2 linked regions of the Homo sapiens genome follow. The protein of the gene in region 1 interacts with the protein of each later gene in a biochemical or structural test. Each region holds a gene or a part of one and is shown on either strand. Other genes may lie near its edges.

What was found. The genes of interacting proteins can lie anywhere in the genome.
Region 2: the proteins of GCH1 (region 1) and AHSA1 form a complex in vitro, tested with the Homo sapiens proteins (one study listed by BioGRID).

Annotation. Positions count from the first base shown.
Region 1 is NC_000014.9:54,847,146-54,850,895, forward strand, and holds part of GCH1 (GTP cyclohydrolase 1), read right to left. Parts: intron 1-3,750. UniProt on the Homo sapiens protein: Positively regulates nitric oxide synthesis in umbilical vein endothelial cells (HUVECs). May be involved in dopamine synthesis. May modify pain sensitivity and persistence.
Region 2 is NC_000014.9:77,455,726-77,459,475, forward strand, and holds the start of AHSA1 (activator of 90 kDa heat shock protein ATPase homolog 1), read left to right. Parts: upstream 1-2,367; 5' UTR 2,368-2,464; coding exon 2,465-2,544; intron 2,545-3,750. UniProt on the Homo sapiens protein: Acts as a co-chaperone of HSP90AA1. Activates the ATPase activity of HSP90AA1 leading to increase in its chaperone activity.

The sequences.
Region 1 (3,750 bases):
TTGTTTTAGTTAATCACAAATCATTTGAAGTAAAATTGATAAGCCTTCCTCATAAAACAAAAAGGACATTGTTGAAGCAAGTGGGCTGCAAGAGGAAATAAAGCTTATGGCAAGATGACAGAAAGATACAAGTACCACAGGGAGATGTAGTCTAAAGTCAACTTGATTGGATTGAAGGATGCAAAGTATTGTTCCTGGGTATGCCTGTGAGGGTGTTGCCAAAGGAGATTAACATTTGAGTCAGTGGGCTGGGAAAGGCAGACCCACACTTAATCTGGGTGGGCACAATCTCATCAGCTGCCAGCGAATACAAAGCAGGCAGAAATATATGAAAAGGCAAGAGTGGCCTTGACTCCCAGCCTACATCTTTCTCCAATGCTGGCTGCTTCCTGCCCTCAAACATCGAACTCCAAGTTCTTCAGTTTTGAGACTCAGACTGGCTCTCCTTGCTCCTCAAGCTTGCAGACAGCCTATTGTGGGACCCTGCGATCATGTAAGTCAATACTTAATAAACTCCCCTTTATATATATATATATATCTCCTATTAGTTCTGTCCCTCTAGGGAACCCTTACTAATACAGAAGACCACCAACCACTGCAGAGTGGTGCTTCCTGATGTCCCCAGAAAGAGAATTAATGAGTCTCCAACTGTGACGTTCACTTAGGAAAAACAGAGATGAGTAACAAAATTTTAAAGTTCCAAATCATCAATTTTAGATCATGTCTCAAGTGCTCTGATTAATCATATTGTTTTATCAGAGCTTAAAATTCAAGTTAAAAATAAAAAGACTTTGTTAATTAATAGCACACCACGGTCAACTACTATACCAACTAAACCTATTAGGAGAATCAGATTGGAACTGATTAGACTTCTTCAGACACCTCTTCATAAGATAGGTTTATGTAAGCACTTAGTAAGATTAACCCCCAAGAAATAAAAGCCTCCTGATCTTAACTTATAGCACAATCTGTCAAGTGATAAATTTTCCTCTTTTTTTTTTTTTTTTTGAGATGGAGTCTTGTTCTTGCCATCCAGGCTGGAGTGCAATGGCATGATCTCAGCTCACTGCAACCTCTGCCTCCTGGGTTCAAGCGATTCTCCTGCCTCAGCTTCCTGAGTAGCTGGGACTATAGGCACCCGTCACCATGCTCGGCTAATTTTTGTATTTTTAGTAGAGACAGGGTTTCACCATGTTGGCCAGGCTGGTCTCGAACTTCTGACCTCGTGATCTGCCCACCACAGTCTCCCAAAATGCTAGGATTACAGGCGTGAGCCCCTGTGCCCAGCCAGAATTTTCCCCTTTCAACATCTTTCATTCTATTTATGAAATATAAAGATGACCACGTGACTTATCCATTTGAAGATGACTATTCACACTGAGGACCTTTTCTTTAAATTCATGGCCTTTTGATCATGAATTCAGATTCAATTTATGGTTCACCTCCCTATGAGGCATTTCCTGGCTCTTCCCCCAACTACACGTCTCAGAACCAACAACTTGCTCCTTTATACCCATTACAGCCAACAAAGTCAGTAACAGGTCCGCCACCCCGTTTACCACTCAGCCCAGAGCTCCCTGAGGGCAGAAGCCATCCTAGCTCTCCTTTATCCCAGCAGTAGTTACTAGGATATTGAAGAAATATATTAATAGCTATATTCTATTGGTATTTTGAACAAAACCTTAGAAAGGAATGGTTTTTAAGCTCCTAGATAGGAGGTATGTCATATTTCTTACTAGGTCAAATTTCTGTATATATTACTTCTGATAGTTTTTCAGGTGATTAGTTTGTTATATATGTAGGAGATGCCATTGATTTTAAAGTTAGTAATGTTTTCCTTCTCGTATTCACCATTCTTTTTCTGGAGTAGAACTTCAGGTGCCACATTGGACAATAGTGGTAACACTGGGCAACCATGTTTTGCTCCACACTTCAATAGGAATGCCTCTAGGATTTCACTACCACCCACAGTGCCTGCCTGCTTCTGGCAGACAGCTGCTCTCATGGCAGGAGGAACATTCCCATAGATTTTTACTGAGTGCCTGCTATGTATGTGATTATATGGTGAACATGCTCTCTGTGCTCTGAGAGCTTATTATTTCTAAACCCTAGTTTATTAGTTTTCTTTTACAAGTGAGGAGTAAATATGAAACCTAACACATCTTTTCAGCATGTCATGTAGCTTCCCTAGATTAAAAAAAAAAATCTTTATTTTGCTGTCATTCTGGAAAGATAATTTGTTGAGAGGTATTTGCTGGGAACCGAATTCTAGTTTGACACTGATATCTATCTTGCCCTTCAGTATTGCTGTTGGCAAACCAATTCAGTGTAACTGCTGTTGCCTTTTAGATAATCGATATTTCTTTCTTTGGCTGCTTTTATATTAACTATATTTTATAAGTATATACTGCAATTTACTATGTTTTAATCCAAGTAGGGATTTAATTTGACTTATTTGGAATTTATTAGGCTTTCTGAAGACCGATATTTTGCATGTGTTCTAGAAACTTTTTTAGCCATTATCTTCTCTAACGTTGCATCTAGCACATTGCCTCTGTTATCTCCAGGAATTTCAATTAAGGGCATATTATACCCTCCCAGTCTTCCATGTTTCTTAAATTCTCATTCATATTTTCTACCTGTCTTTGCGCTGCATTCAGCACAATTTCTTTAGACCTTTCTTCCCAATCACCGTATTTAATCTATGTCTAATCTATTTAATGAGTATACTGGACTTCAGTTTCATTTTTTTAATTTCTAAAAGTTATATTTCCTCCTCTTCCCAATCTGCCTGGCTAATTCTGCAAGTTTCTTATCCCTTTGTCAATTTTTTTTTGTTTGTTTTTTGGCACGGAGTCTTGCTCTGTTGCCCAGGCTGGAGTGCAGCAGCACAATCTTAGCTCATTGGAACCTCCACCTCCCGCATTCAAGCAATTCTCTACCTCAGGTTCCCAAGTAGCTGCGATTACAGGTGCCTGCCACCACACCCAGCTAATTTTTGTATTTTTAGTAGAGACAGGGTTTCACCATGTTGGCCAGGCCGGTCTTGAACTCCTGACCTCATGATCCGCCTGCCTTGGCCTCCCAAAGTGCTGGGATTAAAGGTGTGAGCCACCACGCCCGATCTCCTTTGTCAATTTTTTTATATATAAGTAGGTTCTTTTTTTTTTTTTTTTTTTCCCCCGAGACAGAGTCTCCCTCTTGTCACCCAGGCTGGAGTGCAATGGCACAATCTCAGCTCACTGCAACCTCTGCCTCCCAGGTTCAAGCATTTCTCCTGCCTCAGCCTCCCAAGTAGCTGGGATTAGCGGCACCCGCCACCACATCCAGCTAATTTGTTTTTTTTTTTAATTATTATTATACTTTAAGTTCTAGGGTACATGTGCACAACGTGCAGGTTTGTTACATATGTATGTAAGTGCCACGTTGGTGTGCTGCACTCGTTAACTCATCATTTACATTAGGTATATCTCCTAATGCTATCCCTCCCTGCTCCCCACGACAGGCCCCGGTGTGTGTTTCCTACCCTGTGTCCAAGTGTTCTCATTGTTCAATTGTCACCTATGAGTGAGAACATGCAGGGTTTGGTTTTCTGTCCTTGCGATAGTTTGCTCAGAATGATGGTTTCCAGCTTCATCCATGTCCCTACAAAGGACATGAACTCATCTTTTGTTATGGCTGCATAGTATTCCATGGTGTATAAGTGCCACATTTTCTTAATCCAGTCTATCACTGATGGACATTTGGGTT
Region 2 (3,750 bases), about 23 Mb from region 1:
TAAAGATACTCTACTGTTACTTCCTGACTTTGTTTTCAACTCAGGGGATATAGGGATAGCAAGGGTATTGTGGGGATTTTCTACTATCTGGTCCCTTCTCACGGCAGACATCACTAATTGATTTCTACTGGTACAGGGTTGTTTAAAAATCCTTTTCTGTATTTAATTTTAGGGAGATAAACCAAAAATGCTGGCAGACACCATGAAATCATCCCACACAGACATTGTAGTCAGGCAACCTTGAGTTCAAATCCTGGTTTCTCTTAATTCTGAGCAAAGTGGATAAATGACTTTACTTCTAAGCCTTGGAGAAAATTATATCCTATCTCACAGGGTTGCAGGGAACATCTATAAAAGTGTCTAGCAGAAAGTAAATACTAAATGTTATTTCCTTTTAATATGGAATATCATACTGACATTTTTCTGTCTTGGTTTTCCCGTCTGTTAAATGGGCATAACAGATGACCTACCTTAGAAATGGTTCTGAGGAGTAAACCAGTTAATACATGTAAAGTGCTTAGTGCCTGACCCAAAATTAACACTCAATAGTAACTTTTATTATTAATACATCATCCTGGTACCTTGGGAAAAGCTAAAAAAGAAAATATTTTTTAGCAATCCTAAAGATTAAAAAAAATACAAAAATTCTGAGTAGCCACAAATGCTGAAGATGTGTATAGAACATATAAATGTCTCTGGCACACATGTCAGTTCATAAATCACTCTGTCATTCGTTTGATCCTCAGAACAATCTTGTAAGGTAGGCCTGGGAGATTCCATTTCCATGTTACTCATGGGGAAAGTGAGGCACAAAAGAGTTCAGTATCAAAGCCACTTTGTTAAATGCTCCTATTTCAAATTACAATCCAGGCTTTCTGGCTCCTAGACCATTTCTAGTGTCTTGCATGGTCCTTCTACCTATTTTTCACTTTCCAGAAAACTAGAGATCATTCCTTCACTATAGTAATTATCTACAGATAGACATAGAATGTGTCTAACAAACACAATAATCTACCAGAGGATTTCTGGAATCTTTTTAACCATGCAATGGCAGTAGACAACTGCCATCAATTTGTATTTATAACGCCAAATGAGAAGCTAGGTTTACTTGGCAAGTATAGATAATGATCTAGTGGCTCTAGAGTTATAAAGTAATCAGGTACGATTGTCACTCTTAAGAGTGACAGGTGCTTCAACATGATTTAAAATACTTCAGAGGTTTGTCTTTATCGTCTCTTGTTTACTGACAGCCCACAAGGCAGGGTGAGAGACCTCAGGGGAGAACAGGAACTTTACAAAGGAAAACAGAAGAATCAGCAAGAAAACCACAACATGCTCCCTGCCTCAGAAAACTCCAAAAACCACCTACTGAGAAGTCAGACTTGGTTTCAATTATCTTCCGAGCCAGGAAGATACAGGTGAGGCTTGTGAACTGAGACCAGGGAACAAGAGTTAAGCTAGGATGACTCTACGGGTGAACGTCCAGGAAGCCATGGATCTACCGCAGTCGTCAGAGCCCAGCGGATCCCTGGCAGAGTTAAATGCTCGTTCTGAACCAAATGTCCGCTTCCGAACCAATCGCTGGTGCTCACTCGCAGCCCCAGTCCCAAGCGTACTCCAGCGCCCAAGGGTCGCCCTGACTGAAAGAAGAGAATCAGGCCTGTAGTCATAGGGTGTAGGGATGCCTCCTAGAAGAGGGGAAAAGATCAAGATGCGGAGAGGCTGGATCCAGCCAGATACGCGACCCAAGGGGCTTGGGACACCCTCACCTCTTCCGCACAGAGCCCTCCCTCTCAGGACAGCGCCAGCCTCCGCCGCCGCTGGACCAGCCCTTCTATTCAGGCTGTGCAGCTTAGAGAAGGGGGCGGAAGGGAATAATCGTAGGGCGGAGAGAAAACACGAATAACGAGACCGCAGGGCATGCTGGAAGTCGTAGTTTCTTCTGCCTCTGCTGTCAGGCGCTGTCCCGACGAACCACAAGGCTTCTTGACTACAGCCCCCAGAAACCCCAAGCACCGTGCTAGGTCATTTCCTCTCCTTTCCGCGAGACCTTCCGCGGTTATCCAGCGAGTCACGTAGCAAGACTACAATTCCCATGAGGCTCAGCAAGGGCGATTTAGGGTCCAGGGAAGCAATGAGACGTGTTCTTTGTTTTCCTATGGGTGAGGAATGGTTGTATGAGCAGTTGGGTTTCGGGACGCTTTTTGGGGAGAACCCGATGGAGTCTGAAGGATCTCTAAATCAGGCGGAACCCACGGTGCGGCGAGTTGGGACGGAAGTAACCGGTGGGAGTGGGGAGGAGCCGGAAGTTAAGGAGGGGAGGGGGTGGAGGGAAAAGCAAGCCAGGAGGTGCTTGCGGCCGCTTCTAGTAGTTTCCAGGCGCTGCCGGGCGGCTGGCACTAAGCGGTCCTGAGGCTGTGGCTACGGCTGCTCCGGAGCTGGTGGCGCCGCGATAGGAGAGCCGATGGCCAAGTGGGGTGAGGGAGACCCACGCTGGATCGTGGAGGAGCGGGCGGACGCCACCAACGTCAACAACTGGCACTGGTGAGGGCCAGAAAAGCAGGCCGGCCTTGGGAGACCTGCGGCCGGGCCAGGGTTTCAGGGTTCCTAGAACCTCGGCCCGGACAGAGCTGGGGCTGAGGTAGCCCTGTCCGGAGATGGGGGTGGGTCCTTCCTGTGGCAGGGGTCCGTAGCCCCAGGCCTCTCCACTCCGCGGTCACCTTCTCAGTGTTTGAGGGGAGGGAGATGGACGTGGAGGGCTGCGCCCCAGAGGAGGGTTGTCAGAGAGACTAGGAGATAACGCCCTGGCTGCTGCATCCAGCCCGAGCAGGGAGGTGCTTATTACACGTGGCCAGAGGAGTCACTGAGACTGGAACCTCCTTTGATTGTGTTGGGAGATAGCTGTGAAAGGCCTAAGGCCAGGGGTCTGTAATTCCTATTTTGCGGCCTGCGGTAAAATTAAAAGTCATTCATAGGGGACCGCTGCAGCGGTCCCGCGGGAGATTGAGAACGTGTTGTGCAGGTGCTCAGAGCTCAGATAGCTGCGGCCTCTCACCCGGAACTATCAGGTCGGGTGTGTTGGAACTCCAGGTTGCCGAGCAGCCGTGGTTTTATAACCTGACCGTTCTTAAAATAACTGCCCTCCTTCATGAAATCTTCCCAAAGTAATATTAGTTTCCTTATTTTTGAATTCCACTGAACTTTTTTCGTAATGTTTGTATTGTACCGTTACTTTGTTGCAGCCTTTTTTGCTGTTGTTTTCTCTAATAGTTGATAAGTAGGAAGGCAGATAGTGATGTTTCTTTTCCATATCTCACTTTGTATTCTCTCTTCTTAACATGCAGAGTACTTGACCTAATTTTTGTTGTTTGTTTTGAAGCCCTGGACTTAACGTTTTTGTGGCCATCTAGGGGACAGTGAATGTGTAGGAAGTTTATAATGCAAGTGCGAATCTGATAGGTCAGAACACCGTGCCAATGAGGTCAGGGTTATTGGTTTAATCCTTTCTGGGCCTTTTAGCTAAGTACTATTCTTTCATGGTCCAGTCTGTGTTCCTGATCTCAGCAATATGTGCAGTTTTCCACTTGGTCAAATGGGGGCGCCATGTTAAAGTATCAAGTATTCCCCCGCACCATCATGCCGAGAAAGGAGAGCATAATTTTCCATTGAGTTTATACCATTTTCTACAGCAGCTGTCTTTGTTGACAGTGTGCAACCCCTTGTCTTCCTAAAAAAGAATGACATGTTTGT